2 separate regions of the Homo sapiens genome follow, and region 2 is linked to region 1. Evidence: fine-mapped expression QTL. Tissue or cell type: lung. Region 1 holds a variant in brackets; the other region holds the start of a gene. All regions are shown on one strand. Distances are between the middles of the regions. Region 1 overlaps SETDB2-PHF11 (SETDB2-PHF11 readthrough). Region 2 holds the start of PHF11 (PHD finger protein 11).

Region 1 (5,378 bases):
ACTTTTGGTATGATTTTCTGACATGTAGCTTTCAATATTACTTTGTGCATACTCTGGATTTTTTTTTCCAATCTGCAGCTGTATTCTTCAGGACTTGTGGAATGTGAGGATCAGGATCCACTTAATCCTGATAGAAGTTTTGATGTGGAATCAGTAAAGAAAGAAATCCAGAGAGGAAGGAAGTTGGTAAGTGTAAATGATGTTATTTCTTATACTGGATGAACAGACCCTCAAGGAATGCATTCCAAAGGAGTCTATTTGACTGATACACCAGGGATAGAGAAGCATCTTGGAGAGCTGGAAGAAGTAGGAACTGTATTGGAAACCTCAATTCAACTTAACATTTAATTTTTTTTTTTTTTTTTTTGAGACGGAGTTTTGCTCTTGTTGCCCAGGCTAGAGTGCAGTGACACGGTCTCAGCTCACTGCAACCTCCGCCTCCTGGGTTCAAGCGATTCTCCTGCCTCAGCCTCCCGAGTAGCTAGGATTACAGGCACGGGCCACCATGCTCGGCAAATTTTTGTATTTTTAGTAGAGACAGGGTTTCACCATGTTGGCCAGGCTGGTCGCGAACTCCTGACCTCAGGTGATCTGCCTGCCTTGGCTTCCCAAAGTGCTGGGATTACAGGTGTGAGCCACCACGCCCGGCCAACATTTAATATTTTAAAATAAACTACCATATACTTCACCAGTAAAGTGATCTGAGTTAGAATGCTTTTGCTGTAAGTAGAAGAAAGCTCAAGTCAAACAGACTTTTACAAAGAGGATACTTACTTTTTCACTTGATCAGAGAAAACACCTGCTTTCCAAGTTGGTTGATTGAGTGGCTTGATAATGTCATCAGGGGCCCAGGTTCTTCCTCTCTGGCCTCCTGTCCCCAACATCAGCTGGTCCCATTGTGGTCATAGGGTGGCCGCAGGCAGCAACTGAAGCATCAGGCTTTCTTGTTCATACCCAGTGAAAGACAAAGGTCATCCATACACATGGAATAAGCCCCCTTCTGAAAGTTTCATTAGGTTGCACCCCTCTTTCTGCACCAACTGCTGGGGGTGGCCATAACTAATCAGGGGTCAGCTCCTCATGGGTCATAAGGGGGCTATTCAAGGAGGAAGAAATGCTGAGAAGTCATTCCACTGGGCTTATTGCAGCGACATCCTCTCAAGGACCCTTCACATCTTAGCAAGCAGGACAGCAAGTGTGAGCACCTCACATTCTGACTACAACCACAGGGTTAATAACCAGGGACAAATGTATAGTTAGTCTTTGCAAGGCATCAGCATCAGCAGCATCCTGTGGTAGGTGTGTTACATACATTGCTCTAGGTAAACTCCCAGCTATAGGTAAAATGATGCCCATTTTAATCGAAGAAATGGAAAGTGCAGGGTGAAAGGCAACAGTCCAGATGGAATTCTGCAAATTATGCTATCTTAGGCAGTGTACACAATACTGTAGTAGGTCCTGAAGCAAGCCATAAAAATGGACTGTGTGTGGCCCGGGCATGGTGCTGCATGCCTCTAATCCCAGCACTTTGGGAAGCCAAGGCAGTTGAGGACTGCTTGAGCCCAGGAATTTGAGACCAACCTGGGCAATATAGTGGGACCCTGTCTTTACCAAAAAAGAAAAAAAAATTAGCCCGACACAGTGGCATATACCTGTAGTCCCAGCTACTTGGGAGGCTGAGGTAGGAGGATTGGGTGAGCCTGGAAAGTCGAGGCTGCAGTGAGCTGTGATCACACCACTGTACTCCAGCCTGGGCAACAGAGTGAGACTCTGTCTCAAATTAAAAAAAAAAAAAAAGAGTGTGTGGATCCTGCTCTCAATGTCTATGCTATTACTAATTAATACTTGGCAAGACTGGCTGCTGACATCATTAGTGCTGACAATGCCACATCCCTAGGATTTTGGGTGTGATGAGATGGGTGAACTGATTAGAAAGTAGCAGACAGACCTCAACTGGAATATTTTTTTGCTCTTCACTAATTGGATTTGAGTGGGGAGACACAGAGTTAAAGAAATCTCTGTGAAATTCTAGTAGCCATCCAGTTATGAAGAGACCCAGGCTGAGAAATGAGGGCAGTTGATTGGAGGCATAATATTTGGGGGAAAGCAGGTACCTGAGGGTTTCTGCGGACCTTGGGATGCAGACTTCCCTACTGGGAAGGCTTTGGGATGGGTTGGAAGTGGAGGATAAAGGAGAGAAGAGAGGAAAGTCACCTGAGGTAATAGTTACCCTCTCACAGCATTTATGGAACTCTTGGACTATGTGGGCAGATACATGGCACACACCCAGGGTGGGGACAGGCCAGTGCTGTGGTATTTTCAGTAAGCTGGGCAAGTACCTTGAGGGTGAGCAGCAGGGGCCCTCAGCAAGCAGGCTCCTCCCTAGGATTCAGACTACCAATCTGACAGAGCCACATGGACATCCAATAGCATTTCAGAGTAAAGTGGCCAAAAAAGTACAGTTCCATCTCCTATACACACACACACACACACACACACACACACACACACACACACACACACATTCTCCATCTAAATCTGCTCATAAAAACAGCACTATCATTATCCATTTGCCCAAGCCAGAAGTCTAAGGACTCTCTTTTCCTCGTCAACCTCCCAGCCCAACACCAAGCCCATGGGCACGAACTCCTAGGTGCATCTTGCATTCATCCACCCACTTCTCTCAGCGTCAGTAATCCACCATAGCGGAGTCACCCATCTTGTTCTCTAAAGCGAGTACTGACACTCGCCCGACTGTCTCTCCTGCCATCCCTACCCCAGCCCGTAGTTCTCCACCCAGCAGCAGCCCAGCAGCCTGAGTGATCTTTCAATAATGTTAATCAGTTTATGTTCCCCGTGCAGAAAGATAAAACCCAACTCCTTACTCTGGCATGTAAGTCCTACGTGACCCAGCCCTTACTTACCCCTTTGATCATCCTGAGACTTCCCTGTGCCCACTTCGCTGCTCCAACAGCACTGGCCATCTGTCTTGTCCTCGCTGTAGCTTGCCAATGGGGAAGCTCATTCTTGCGGCCAAGACCCAAGGCCCTCTGCTTAGAATGTCTTTCCTCCTCCTTTTTGCATCTGGGAGCTCTTACTATTATTCAGATCTCAGCTTCCATATCACCTCCTTAGAGGTGACCCATTTTACTAACTGCCCAGTCTGAAGTAGGGACCCAGTGACACTGTCACTTC[A/C]CCCTATTTTAATTCGATATAATGTGTATATAACTTTGTGAGACGTTTTAAACTTTGCTTTATTTGATCATTGTACCTTGTCTCCAATAGAATGTAAGCTTCACGTGGACAGGCATCTTTTCTGCTTTGTCCACTACTGTTTTCCCTTATCCTAAAACCATGCCTGCCACATCATAGCTACTGCATGCTAAATAAATACTATATACTCATGTATTTTTAAATGAATAAATGTTTATTAGCCATTTGTATTTTTTCTTCTGTAATTTGCCAGTTACCATTTTTCTGCAGGTTATCAGAATCTTAAAACTTTATCTAGTATGCTACAAACATTCTTCTTTCAATCTTTTCCTTGTCTTTTAAATATTTTGAATGCCCTCACTATAAAATGGAAGTTTAAAATTTTTGTATAGTAGGTTCTGTCAGTTTTTGTTTTTGAAACAGATTCTCCGTCTGTCGCCCAGGCTGGAGTGCAATCACAGCTCACCGCAGCCTTGATTTCCTGGCCCCAAGCCATCTTCTGGCTTCAGCCTCCCAAATAGCTGGGACTACAGGAGTGTGCCACTATGCCCCGCTGATTTTTAAAGTTTTTTGTAGAGATGAGGTCTCACTGTGTTGCTCAAGCTGGTCTCGAACTCCTGGGCTCAAGCAATCCTCCTGCCTCAGCCTCCCAAAGTACTAGGATTACAGGCATGGGCCACCATGCCCAGCCTGTCAGAGTTTTCATTTGTGGCTTCTGGGTTTTCTTCCTGCCTTAGACAGCCTTCCTTGCCTCCATACTACGCTTTTTTTCTTTCTCCTATATTTCCTAATCTTTAAGAGTTTTTTGTTTAACATTGTTATCTGGTTCGAGCTTTAATCCATGTACAACTTATTCAGGAGTATATTGTGAGGTAGGGATCTAACTTTATTTTTTTCCTATATACATAGCCAGTTACCCTCCTCCCAAATTAAATGATCGTTCTTGTATGCTCTGATTTGAATTTCCACCGTTATCATAACCTTATTTCTTGCCTATATTTGAATTTCCTTTAACTGTTTCTATGCTTGCTTGTGCCGACCCTGGGCTATGGTGTGAGTGACCTCCTGTTCTGCAAGGCAATTTCACTGTGCCCCCACGTCATTCAGCCAGAGTATCATGCTGATCAGCCTTGGTCCTGGCTGGATTCCCCTAAACCAGTTAGGCTGCTGTGGCCACACACTGCCTAGCCATCATGACACCACTGTCACATATAAAATACCAGATAGATAAATACAAGCCAGGGATCAAATAAATTGAACCAAGAAAAAACTGTTAATAGAGTTGTAGAATTTTTAAAAATTTTTGGCCCTACTACCTAGATTCCCTTACTTTATCTCACATTATCCTCAATGGCAACTCTGTAAGACAGATATTATCACCCACAGCAGGTTCTGAGTCCGAAAGAGAAATCACACCACTCTCCGTGGCACAGCCAGCGACCAATCTCGCCTGTCTCAAAGGGCCCCCTAGTGGGGCCCCTTGCCTGGAGCTGGACAAGTTTGCCCACTCTGCTTTTTAGAAAATTCTTTTTAAAAGACAGAGACTGTTTTTTTGAAACAAAAAGCATTTTTCTGCTTTTAATCAGATCATTACAAAACTGTCTGTCCAAGCATTCCGGTTAGCTGAGGTTTCGCTGAAATTCCCAAATGAGCAGCCAAATATAAGTACTGTACCCTAATGTTTGTAACGGGATGGAATCTTGCTGATGATGCCCAGGATAAAATGCAGGGCTTCTGGAACTTAAATAACATTTAATGATATCTTTGAATTTTAACAAATAACAACAAACAGGTACTTACTCAGTAAAATCTATTCTTCTGTAGAAATGCAAATTTTGTCATAAAAGAGGAGCCACCGTGGGATGTGATTTAAAAAACTGTAACAAGAATTACCACTTTTTCTGTGCCAAGAAGGACGACGCAGTTCCACAGTCTGATGGAGTTCGAGGAATTTATAAGTATTTAATAAAACATTTTTAAAACCACATTTGGGGGATTGGGATAAGGAATGGTTGGATTAAGACAAGGAGACTTTGAAGACTAATTTTATGTAAATGGTTTTCAAATGAGAACAAAGCCAGTTTGGGGGATGCACAGGGGTTATGTGAATTTTGAATTTCAGTGAAAAATCTATATATATATATATATTATTTTAGTCACAATAT
Region 2 (5,378 bases), 19 kb before region 1:
CAGTGCTGTTGCTGTGGAGTCTGAAAATCTGTCTTCTGGCTTCCAGGGTGACTACTGGAAATTGAATGCCATTCTGTTCCTTCTCTTTTGCATATATAATCCATTTTTATCTCTCTTGAAGCTTATAGGTTTATCTTTGTCTCAATGTTCTGTCCCTGTTAAGAGTCCATTTTCATCCTTTGTACTAGGTGCCTGGTGGGATCATTCCGTCTGAAACTAATGATTTCCCATCTCTTCACTGTTTCTGGAATTCCTGTTTTCCAGATGTTAGACCTCCAGAATTTGATCTCTAATTTTCCTATCTTTTCTCTTAACTTTCAGCTCTGTCTTCTTGCTAGGACCTTTTCCTAGGAGCATTTCTCAATTTAATCTTCCAGTTCATCTGTTGCATTTTATTTTTCTAGTCTCATATTGTCTCATATTTTTAATTTCTAAGAGCTCCCCTTCTCCGAATATTCTTTTTTTTTAATAGCATCCTATTTTGGCTCATGGTTGCAGTATTTTATCTCCTTGAAGATGTTTGTGTGTTTATGTATGTATATGCACACACGTATACATACACATACAGGCATGCATCTCTGTATTCTTTCGGCATAATCTGTGTCCTCCAGGGTTTGTTTCTTTGTTTCCCCTGTATGTTTGTTTTGGTCGTTCACATTATAGGCTTTCCTCAGAGTTAATGGTCTTGGTAGTCTACTCATATTTAAGTGTGGAACACCAAAAAGCTTACTATAAGCTGAGAGTGTGGTAAAGGGCTCTTTGTTTTACTATGACCTACCTGAGCTATCTTGCTGGGGAACACCCTAATGTCAGTCTCTTTATAAAGGGCCTTTCATTTTGGCCTGGCAAGAAATACTCTTTCATCCTCCTGCATGGAGGGCAAAAAAAAATTTAAAAATTGGCTGCTAGGGTCTGTCTGCTCACTTCCCTGTTTTGCAGACCCCACACTCTTCTGCAATTCATTTCATAGTTGTCAAGACTATACAAATTGTCCTTTTTAATGTTCTCTCTTCTGCTATCCCTAGTTGGCAGTCTTCCTCTTTACAACCTGCTGAAAGTGGAAGACCTCCAGTTTTCCTTTAATTCCTCAGCAAACCACCAACTATTATATGTCTTTTTTCCAGAACAACTTATTTTTTAACTATAATTATATGCATTTATGTTAGATTCACTGAAAACCTCATCTTGTATGGTGCTCTGTACCCTATGGGTGCTAAATAAAGGCTTGCTACTGGCAACTGGATTTAGGATCGGCTAATTCTGCGTCCTTTTAAGATATGCTTATTTAAGCCAAACTCGGTATGATAATTTTTTTTTTTTTTTTTTTTTTTTTGAGAGGGAGTCTGGCTCTGTCGCCTAGGCAGGAGTGCAGTGGCGCGATCTTGGCTCACTGCAACCCCCGCCTCCCGGGTTCAAGCGATTCTCCTGCCTCAGACTCCCGAGTAGCTGGGATTACAGGCGCCCGCCACCAAGCCCGGCTAATTTTTGTATTTTTAGTAGAGACGGGGTTTCACCATGTTGACCAGGCTGGTCTCGAACTCCTGACCTCGTGATTCGCCCACCTCGGCCTCCCAAAGTCCTGGAACTACAGGCGTGAGCCACCGCGCCCACCCGGCCAGTATGATAGTTTTTAGGAGGAACCCTCAGGAGAGTGATTGTTTCTCCCGCTGTGTTGTGGGGGGTGGAGTAGGGAAGCCTGGCGTTTGGGGTTTTTTTGTTTGTTTGTTTTTTGTGTGTGTTTGTTTGTTTGTTTGTTTTGAGACGGAGTCCCGCTCTGTAGCCCAGGCTGGAGTGTAGTGGCGCGATCTCGGCTCACTGCAAGCCCCGCCTCCCGATTCAAGCGATTCTCATGCCTCAGTGTCTGGAGTAGCTGGGATTACAGGCACCCGCCACCATGCCCAGCTAATTTTTGTATTTTTAGTAGAGACGGGGTTTCACCATGTTGGTTAGGCTGGTGTTGAACTCCTGACCTCGTGATCCGCCCTCCTCGGCCTCCCAAAGTGCTGGGATTACAGGCGTGAGCCACTGCTCCCGGCGTTTGGGTTTTTTAAGCTATTCAAATTAAGACTAGACTGGAATCTGGAGCAGTGTGTGTGACAACCCCTCTCTGCACACCCAACTTTCCCCGGGCCGGCTAGTGACTCAAAGCGACAGCCCAGATTTAAGAAAACGAAACCTAGTGCAGCTGGGGCACTTCCGGGATCTCGCTATCCGGCCGCCACCCGCAGCTGCAGCACAGTCATGGCCCAGGCGTCGCCGCCCCGGCCCGAGAGGGTGCTCGGCGCCAGCAGCCCGGAGGCCCGGCCCGCGCAGGAGGCGCTCCTCCTTCCCACCGGTGTGTACCGCGGGGGCGGGCGGGCGGGCGGGCGGGGCTGGGCAGCGACGGGCCCGGTCAAGGGGCCTGCCTTCCGGTCGTGGCCGCATGGGGGCCCGACCTGCCCCTACTCCGGGCCGGGGCCCTAGACGCCGGGGCGGCGCTGGACGAACTTGGCTCACCACTCGCGTGCCTGTTGGTGGGGGAGGGGGCCAGAGGACAGGGCGCGGCCCAGGCCAGTTCCACAGGTGGCTCTGACTGCCCATGGTTTCGCGCGAGTGGTGGGCACGCTTCGGTTTACCTCCCCCGCGGGTGACAGCCCAGTGCTTCCACCACAACCGATGTCAACTCTCCTAGCGCCCCTCCGCTCACCGGTAAACCAGGACAGTGGAGGGGCGCCCTGATGCGGTGAGGCAGGGGGCGGCCCTGAGGGAAGAGCTGGGTCTCACGTTCACGGAGGACGTGACTGGAACCCGTCTCCCCTTCTCCAGTCGTTCCAGTCCTCCCCGGCCCTCTACTTGAGTGGGTGGGTCTTCTGATGGGTTCCTGCCCTTGCGTGTGTGTATAGCTCCAAACGGTGTGCCAGGCTCAGGGCAAGGTCCTGAGCATACAAAGATGAGTTAGGCAGACCCTGCCCTAGAGACTCTACTAGGCAACTTTAATGAGGAGGTCAGAACCACAGAGGTACAGATGAGAGACTCCTGACTCCCAGTCTTCAGGGAAAGCTTTTTGAGGAGAGGATGGCTGGGCTTACCCTTTTTTTTTTTTTTTTTTTTTGAGAGGAGTTTCACTCTTGTTGCCCAGGCTGGAGTGCAAAGGCGCTATCTCGGCCCACTGCAACCTCTGCCTCCCGGGTTCAAGCGATTCTCCTGCCTCAGCCTCCCGAGTGGATGGGATTACAGGCATGTGCCACCACGCCCAGCTAATTTTGTATTTTTAGTAGAGAGGGTTTCTCCATGTTTCATGGGCTTACCTTTAAAGGGCAAGACTCAGCCAAAGGTGGAAAAGTTGAAGGGGTGTTCCCAGCAGAGAGGATGACACAAAGGCACCAAACCACAAAACGTCACACGTAAACATCATACGTGGCAACCACAAGCCAATCAGTTGGATATTTCATTCATTGGTATACATATGGACTGTAAGGTAAGTCACGGGAGATGCGCTTCCATCCTGACCTCTTCCTCAAACTCCAGACTGGTATAACCAACTTCTTCCATTTCTGAAATGATCTCAAACTGAGTATGTCCCAAAGAGAATTCTTGTTTCCTCCACTGTATTCAGGTACTCCAAACCTGCTCAACCACCAGCCCATTCCATTCGCCCAGGTGCTCCTTGCAAAAACCTTAGTGGCTCCTCAGGGCCTCTCTTTCCTCCGGACACCCCTTCTAATGCATCAGTCGGGCCAGCCAGTTCTGTGTTCAGCCTGACTGTATCTGGAGCCTGACTGCTTCTCACCACTTCCATTACTGCCACCCAAGCCTACGCCATCATGATCTTCTGTCTGGACTATTGCTTTCCTGGCTTCTATTCTAGCCTTTAATACAGGCAGGCCTGCAGAGCGGCCAAAATGCTTTTTGAAAAACAAAAAGCAAATGTGATTCTCCTACTCAAAACCCACCAATAGTCTCCCATGACTCTCAGAACAATCTATGAGCCTGGCCTGCAGTTTACCCCATGTCCTTATCTGATTTGACTCCTGCCCATCTTAATGACTCTGCTACCCTGCTACCTTGTAGGTCCTCTAAGCCACCAAAGCTGTCCCTGCCTCAGGATCTTTCCATTTGCTATTCTCTGCAAGGAAAACTCATTGCCACATTATCCCATTTTCAGTTCCCCATCATATTCAGGTGTCTGCTCATATACATCTTCCCTCAACCTTGCCTGCCCATCCTGTCTAAAAGAGCACCCCTTGCCCCTGCTCCTGTCACTCTCTACCTCCTTCTGCTCTATTCTTTCTCTATAGTACTTATCACTACCTGGAAAACAAAACAAAACTTGTTTAATGCCTGTCTCTACCACTGGCCACTGGCATGTAAATTCGTCTTACTCTCTTCTATCCTTAGTGCCTAGACTGGTTGGCCTAGTAGTAGTAGTAGGACATAGTAGGTACTCATTAAATATTAAATAATAGTAAGTCCTCATTAAATATTTGTTGAAGGAATGAATGTACTTGTATATAACACTACGGAGCTTGACTTCTGTAGGTGATGGGGAAATATGAGCAGATGTCCATTTCAGGTAGATCATTCTGACAGTAACATAGTACATTTCCGGTAGATCATTCTGACAGTAACCTAGCACATTTCTGGTAAATCATTCTGACAGTAACCTAGTACATTTCCGGTAGATCATTCTGACAGTAACCTAGTACATTTCCAGTAGATCATTCTGACAGTAACCTAGTACATTTCAGATAGATCATTCTGACTGTAACCTAGTACATTTCCGTTAGATCATTCTGACAGTGACCTGGTACATTTCAGGTAGATCATTCTGACAGTAACCTAGTACATTTCAGGTAGATCATTCTGACAGTAGCATAGTGCATTTCAGGTAGATCATTCTGACAGTAACGTAATACATTTCAGATAGATCATTCTGACAGTAATATAAAGAATGCAGTGGGATCATGACAGGGAAAATAGAGACAAGGACAAGAGATCACTGGAATAGACTAGGTGAAAGACCCTGAGGGTAAGGCAGTCCACCTTCCACACCGCTGCCAGCACTGTCTTTCTCTTAAACACACATGGGCACACACACATATAAACATGTGAGTGCACACACACAGATCAAGTAAGTCATGGTCCTTCCAGTGTTAATAAGCACGTACTGGCTGCAAGTACTACAAAAACAATTTGATGTAATTTAAGCATGAGGGATGCTTAGTAGTAGTAAGCAGGAAAACCAGACTCACAGACCCCCAGAGCATGGATACTTTAGCATCTTACAGAAAGGGCTGAGGACTAGGACCTGAGAAGCCATTATAAACTTTGACAACACTCTCCTTTATCTCTTATTTCTGCATCTCTCAGTGTATCTGCTTTGTTCTTCTCTTTCTCTG

The links.
Region 2: PHF11 starts here. The variant in region 1 is fine-mapped to the expression of PHF11 in lung (GTEx, PIP 0.99).

Annotation. Positions count from the first base shown.
Region 1 is chr13:49,512,981-49,518,358 of GRCh38, forward strand. SETDB2-PHF11 (SETDB2-PHF11 readthrough) reads left to right here. Exons shown (of 21, transcript NR_135324.2): 13 at 79-186; 14 at 5,038-5,171. PHF11 (PHD finger protein 11) reads left to right here. Exons shown (of 10, transcript NM_001040443.3): 3 at 79-186; 4 at 5,038-5,171. Among named protein-coding and RNA genes, the nearest start is that of PHF11, 20 kb to the left of the region's middle. The variant A/C (reference allele first, on the strand shown) is at 3,196.
Region 2 is chr13:49,493,761-49,499,138 of GRCh38, forward strand. PHF11 (PHD finger protein 11) reads left to right here and starts at 2,193. Exons shown (of 10, transcript NM_001040443.3): 1 at 2,193-2,335. The coding sequence starts at 2,242. All of the region lies in intron 12 of SETDB2-PHF11 (SETDB2-PHF11 readthrough), which reads left to right. It overlaps SETDB2 (SET domain bifurcated histone lysine methyltransferase 2), which reads left to right. Exons shown (of 14, transcript NM_001160308.3): 14 at 1-1,243. RefSeq lists enhancers at 999-1,684, 1,995-2,234, 2,725-2,774 and a silencer at 2,255-2,534.